2 linked regions of the Homo sapiens genome follow. The protein of the gene in region 2 interacts with the protein of the main gene of each other region in a pairwise test. Each region holds a gene or a part of one and is shown on either strand. Other genes may lie near its edges.

Evidence for each region. The genes of interacting proteins can lie anywhere in the genome.
Region 1: the proteins of ZBTB49 (region 2) and PECAM1 interact in binary tests that used the Homo sapiens proteins (3 or more experiments, as listed by UniProt).

What each region holds. Positions count from the first base shown.
Region 1 is NC_000017.11:64,380,861-64,384,360, reverse strand, and holds part of PECAM1 (platelet endothelial cell adhesion molecule precursor), read left to right. Parts: intron 1-3,500. UniProt on the Homo sapiens protein: Cell adhesion molecule which is required for leukocyte transendothelial migration (TEM) under most inflammatory conditions.
Region 2 is NC_000004.12:4,303,751-4,307,250, reverse strand, and holds part of ZBTB49 (zinc finger and BTB domain-containing protein 49), read right to left. Parts: intron 1,114-3,500; coding exon 1,067-1,113; intron 1-1,066. UniProt on the Homo sapiens protein: Transcription factor. Inhibits cell proliferation by activating either CDKN1A/p21 transcription or RB1 transcription.

The sequences.
Region 1 (3,500 bases), on a different chromosome or scaffold from region 2:
GGTGGTGGTTGTGGCGGTAAAAACTAGGTCACTGTTTTTGTTGTTTTGTCGATGATATTTGTGTTAAGATGAAGAGCTGAGACTCATATCTCAACAGAGTTTATAAAATGCTTTTCTTTTTTCCATCCTGCCCTCTCTTCTCCCTTGTCTGTTCGAGCTAGCCATGGGAATGTGGTGTTCCTGCCAGTGCATCCATTGAGTTCGTTTATTGTTAATTTATTTATTTTCTGAGATGGAGTTTTTGCTCTATTGCTCAGGCTGGAGTGCAATGATGTGATCTTGGCTCACTGCAACCTCTACCTCCTGGATTCAAGTGATTCTCCTGCCTCAGCCTCCTGAGTAGCTGGGATGACAAGTGCCCGCTACCATGCCCGGCTAATTTTTGTATTTTTAGTAAAGGCTAGGTTTCACCATGTTGGCCAGCGGGTCTCGAACTCTTGACCTCAGGTGATCCACCGACCTAGGCCTCCCAAAGAGCTGGGATTACAGGTGTGAGCCGCCACACCCTGCCGAGTTTGTTTATTTGAGCAGATAATGTGTGTTAGAGTTGCTTAGAAAAACAAGATGGTGGACGGGCCCCATGCTAGTGGGTACCATCCCTACTGGAAAAACCACTGCTTGGTGCATTAGCCAAATTTGCTTTAAAATTGTTTTTTAAAAAGGGAGGGCTTTTATAAAAATCAAATGAACTAGGACTGGTTAGTGGGAGGCTCACGCAAGGGTTGTGCTGAGGCTGGAAGGCCCAGAGTAGGAAGAGTTGTGGAGTGCAGAATGAGCTCTCCAAGGGCAGACACTGCCAGCCTCACTGTTCTCTGAACCCCCAGTATGGGGGACAGTGCTTGGCACAGAAAAACCCCCTTAAATGTTTGCTATGAATGGTGCTAAGGAAGAAGGCAGAGAATGTCAACCAGAGGCCAGGCACTGGGCAATATATACACGGCCCCTTCTGTGCCCTCAGCCACTTTGGCGCAGTCACTGTTTAGGTTAAAGATACCAGAGAAGGCAGGTATTCATGTTCCTACTTCGTAGGCAGAGACGTGGTGGCCCAGAGAGGTTAAATAACTCCCGAGATCACCCAGCTAAGCACTGTGGGATCACGGGTTTGAATCTGGTATGTCTGACTCCCTTCTGTACCCAGCACTGTCTGCTGGTCTAGGGCATAACCAGCCAGGGATGGGCAGCTCGTTCAGTAAACAGGAGAGCAGATGAATGACTCGTGTGGAGAGCACGCAGTGGAGTGAGCAAAACTGGGAGGCTGGAGAAGTCGCTTTAAATTAACCTGAAAATGTTTAATATGCTTTTTATTTTGTTTATTTTTTTTGAGATGGAGTCTATCTTTGTTGCCCAGGCTGGAGTGCAGTGGTGCAATCTCGGCTCACTGCAATATCCACCTCCCAGGTTCAAGTGATTCTTCTGCCTCAGCCTCCCGAGTAGATGGGATTACAGGCAACTGCCACCACGCCTGGCTAGTTTTTGTATCTTTAATAGAGATGGGGTTTCACCATGTTAGCCAGGAGGCTGGTCTCGAACTCCTGACCTCAAGTGATCTGCCCAGCTCAGCCTCCCAAAGTTCTGGGATTACAGGCATGAGCCACCACGCCCAGCCTTAAATATGGTTTTTATTTGAAAAAAAAAAAAATCCCTAGAAACATGTAGTGGAGACACAGCTTTAAAGCTCTGAATAGTTGATTTTCAGCTCATGCCTGTAATCCCAGCACTTGGGGAGGCTGAGGCGGGATGATTGCTTGAGGCCAGGCGTTTAAGAATAGCCTGGACAACATAGTAAGACCCCATCTCTAAAAAATTAAAATTAAAAAATAAAAAAAGAGTCGACTTTATTTCTGTAACTGGAAGAATCTAGCTAACATTTCTCAAGCACTTTATAGGTGCCAGGAACTCTACTTTAAGTAATTAAACTCAGGTTCTCATTTATACTTACATTCCTTGTGCCTATTGTATGGATAAGCAAACTGAGGCTCAGAGAAATTTAGGGACTTGCCAAAGGTCACACAGCTTTGTTAGTAGCAGAGATGAGATTTGGCCCAGGTCTGGCTCCGTGCACTTGATTTCTGCTCTTTAGTATCTCCTGGTTGAGTCACTGGAATACACAGCATAGCTTAAAATGAAGGAGGAAGTACTGAAGAGGTAATGGAAGGAGACCTAACTGTCTCTGAGAGGGAAGAGAGTGGTTGGGAGGGAACTATATTAATTGAGGAGTGCAGAGAAATTAATATGGTCCAAAGGAAAAAAAGGTTTTTTTGAGATGGAGTTTTGCTCTTATTTCCCAGGCTGGAGTGCAATGGCATGACCTTGGCTCACTGCAACCTCTGCCTCCCAGGTTCAAGCAGTTCTCCTGCCTCAGTCTCCCAAGTAGCTGGGATTACAGGCGCCCACCACCACACCCGGCTAATTTTGTATTTTTAGTAGAGATGAGGTTTCACCATGTTGGCCAGGCTGGTCTTGAACTCCTGACCTCAAGTGATCCACCCGCCTCGGCCTCCCAAAGTGCTGGGATTACAGGCATAAACCACCGTGCCCGGCTGGTCCAAAGAAAGTTGTGTGTCGAGAGCTCATCCAGCAGGCTTCTTAAATCAGGAGCTTGTAAGTTGCATATAAAGACAAAAAAGGGAGTTCCAAAGAGTAATGCTGTGGGAAATGACTTGAATTTAAACCGTCACCTTGTTTCATCTCATGGACTGGTCAGACACCATTTTTGTTGTCGTTGTTGTTGTTAAATTAATTGCTCAGAATATAGCAGCAGGCGCAAATTGTAGTACTCGTTTTAAAATTGAAGATTAAATTTTAAATTACCCAACAAAGGCCTAACTTTGTTAAAAGAGAGGGAAAGGACAGGTTCTGCCAGTATCTCTGGCCAGCTAGCTAACTAACTTTTTTCTTATTCCAAAAAAATGACTTGGGACCACTTATAAAAATTATGTATTGTTCAATGAGATACAATTAATGAGGAAATCAGGATGAGAGAAAAATAAAGGCAGGGAAATAAAGCTATGGCCCATTTAGCACAAACGCATCCCAAAGATTGCTAGAAGCAGAGGTGAAATTTTTGCTGTGTGTTAACAATCAAAGCAAAAAGAGGAACAAGGTCCATTAGAACATTCTCAGAATCCACAAGATAGAAATGAATCAGTTGTTCAGCATAAACACAGTGTTTCCTGGTGCTGTTGGAACACTTTGTGAAATTAGGGACAATATCTCATCAACATCCCAGACCAACATCCCAAAAGACCATTTAATAGCTTGCATCTGTGCTTCTCCCTACCCCATAGCCCCTCCCTCCAGAGATGACCACTATGCTGACTTGTAAAATATTAATCTTATATCCAGCCACCTTTCTTTTTCGTTTGTTTGTTTGTGTTTTTGCAGACAGAGTCTTATTCTGTCGCCCAGTGCAGTGTTGTGATCTCAACTTACTGCAACCTGTGCCTCCCAGGTTCAAGTGATTCCCCTGCCTCAGCCTCCCAAGTAGCTGGGATTACAGG
Region 2 (3,500 bases):
CTCCTGGATGGGAGAGAAGACATGGCCCCAGGCCCAGAGAAATGAAGTGCTCAGGAGGACATGACCCGACCGAGTACGCGATGAGAGACGGCGAGGACTTGGTGAATCCCAGCAGGCAGGGACTCAGAGAGTGGGAGGGTGAAGAGTCATTAAGATGGCAGGTTTGGGTGTGTGAGCAAATGGAACTGACACCCTCAACAGATGAAGAGAAACTGGAAGAGTCTGCTCTAGGGGGAATGCGAGCAAACACGGCGCTTGCCATTTCCAAGCTCTGCGGGGCCTGCCTCCCAGCTCCAGAGGCATGCACTGCTGCCACAGGATCTACCATGCTGTGTGAGACAGTCGTGCCAGTGACTGTGCCCTGAAGAGCTGCGCCCTCACGCCCTGGAGCAGCTTCCATCTGATCTACCTCTGGAAGCCCAGGGCACTGCACATGGCGGTGAATAGTTACCTTCTGTTTCAGAAAGAATAGGTTCCCACAAGCCATTTTCTAGAAAACATTAGGTCTCTAGGTTTCTTTGTGTCCCATGCCCAGCACAGCACCTGGCCCATGGGAGGGTAAAACAAACGTTTCCTCAAGGACTGAATGCCTATGTGTCCAAATGACCTTAATGGAGGTCAGCTAAAGGTAGCAGTCAACACAGGGAACAAAACTTGTTTCATCTTTTTTTCCAACATCCTACAATCTACAGTCCCAACAAGAATGAGGAGACCTAGTTGTCTTCAGCCTAACCCAGCACAATGTGCAGCCTCCAGGTACGCCAAGCTCAAGGTGGTTCACTGTGAACTTCATTCATGAAACGGAAGACATATGCTAAGTTTGGACTCATCCTTAGCAAGGCGAAAAAAGTATTGTAAGAATTCACACATGAAAATGCTATTTTTCTCTCAAAGAACTAGAAATCTGTTTTCTTGAAAACGATTTATCCTAATTTATTCTGAAGTCTTTAAGTTACAGACATCATTAGAGGCTTCTCTCACAAGTACAAAAGTATGTCTTATTTCCAATAAAAAAACACTGTGTTGCAGGTTTCCAATTATTAACAATAAATAAGAGTATTCCCACCTGAGAGAAATGTTTCCCACAAATGTTACATTCAAAAGGTTTCTCACCTAAAACAAAACAAAACAACAACTTGTAAAATCATTACTAGTATTTGTTCAATAATTTTTTGTTTAAATGACCTCCTATGTACTTTCAAAATGGCATTACATTCTGCATCCTAACAGTATGAAAATAGGGAGTGTCTACTTCCTTATATTTCTCTCTTGCCTTTATTTCTACACAGAGATGATAAAAGTAATATTTTCCTCTAAAAACTTAAACTGTTCTCCAAACAAAACTTATGTTAAAATCAATGTATTTATTTGCATCCAGAGCAGACCCACGTTCTGGAAGTGGTCTTTTCCTGTGGTTGAGTTTTCCTGCTGAACAGCACGATCCCGCTCACCTATTCTTCAGCCTGATGCCACCCAACCACCAATCCTAACAGACACAGGGTCACTGGTTCACACCACACAAGGTATGAGCACAGAGAGCCCCAAACACAGTGGGTCGTCCTGAAGCATGAGTGTGAAAAGGAAAGAGCCCCTCACCACAGTCTTCCTGCCTTGGTTCTCACGAGAGAAAGTAAGATTTCATTTTGGGAGATGTGCTCCTCTGCGGACTTCTTTATCACCTCTAATTTCAATAACTAAGTAACTGCGCTTGGGGACAGAACAGATTCTAAGAATGGTACTCTACTACAAAAAAACCACAGCTGTTCTGAAATGTGGCCTACAGAACATGATCTGAATTTAAAAGCACACTCCATGGTACTGCCTTTAATCTATATAACGCTAATGAATAGACTTTGAACACTAAGAACCTCTCATTTTCTCCATTTCCCTGAAATCAAATGGTTTCATTAAGATCTTCTTTAAAAAGTAACAATAATGTTTTCCCTTCCTACTATATCGTTGGGGCTTGCTACCTTGAAGAAAGCAGCTTGCTAGCTTTCTGGGCTCATTCTAGGATATTTTAATTTTATTTTATCCTGAAAATGTCTAATGGCTTCCTTGACCCTGAATAATTATATTTATATTAATAATAAATTAATAATTACATTAATTCTGTATTGCAATAAATGAAACTACATTTATGTCTGAAATTATTGGGGGTGACAGATAATAAGTTAAAGCCCCCATAAGAAATATAAGAATTTGAAAAGAGAGAGAGGTCACCAGTTACTAAGACTAATAAATGACCAAGGTTAACAATCCTACTCCAGTAGGCCTCAGACTTTTTGGCCTCAGGACCCCTTCACCTTAAAATTGAGGTCCTAAAGAGCTTTTGTTAATATGGGCTATAGCTATTGATATCTACCATACTGGAAATGAAAACAGAGTGACCTTTAGAACAGGTAAATACACACTTCACAGGCCACCAGGGTGAGGACTTCATCACACATCATGTAGCTTTGGGCAGACTAACTGTACACTCATAAGAGGAGGAAAAAACAACTAACATCTTAGACAATTTTGAAAATAGTGTTGGCCTCACAGACCCCCAAAAAGGGTTCCCCAGACCATACTTTGAGAATTGCTGCCCTTCTCGGTAGAATATTTATGTGCCAGTAAGCATCTTTGCCATGACTGTATCTGTCATTCAAAGAGGTTCTCCCAGAATAAACAATTTTTGATTCCTTTAAAAGCTAAGCAGGTAAGTTTCACAATAAAAAATTACAGCCATCGGGCCAAGCGTTGTGGCTCATGCCTGTAATCCCAGCACTTTGGGAGGCCGAGGTGGGCAGATCACTTGAGGTTAGGAGTTCAAGATGAGCCTGACCAACATGGTGAAACCCTGTCTCTACTAAAAATACAAAAAAATTGGTGGCGCATGCCTGTAGTCCCAGCTACTCGGGAGGCTCAGGCAGGAGAATCAATTGAACCCAGGAGGCAGAGGTTGCAGTGAGCCGAGATTGTGCCACTGCACTCCAGTCTGGGCAACAGAGCGAAACTCTGTCTCAAAAAAAAAAAAAAAAAATTGCAGTAATCATTAGGCTGTAGGAGATTTAGGCAAACAGAATCATCTAAAGTTTTTTCAGGGCAAAACTAAGTCTGTGATATTGCCTTCACGTGGAATAATTTTGAACTACTAGTGATAATAACAGTACTTTATATTCAAATGCACTAAAATGTATAAAGGGCCTTCACAATTATCAAAGAAATCTCCCAATAATACAAGGTCGTAAAATGCAAACTGTGAATCCATAGTGATAACAGAAGGTCACATCAACAAACACAATTACACAAACACCGTAAAAGCAGCTGCTGTGGAAGCATCCTGTTGCATGTTACTTCTCATGCCTATAAGGTAATTGTTGTTCATCTGTAATGTGCTATTAAACTCATGTTTAATTATAGGAAGAAAAGTAATATATATGTATTGTATAACATAATGTGTGTGTGTGGAGATATATATATAGAGAGAGAGAGAGACACACACACAGAGAGAGAGA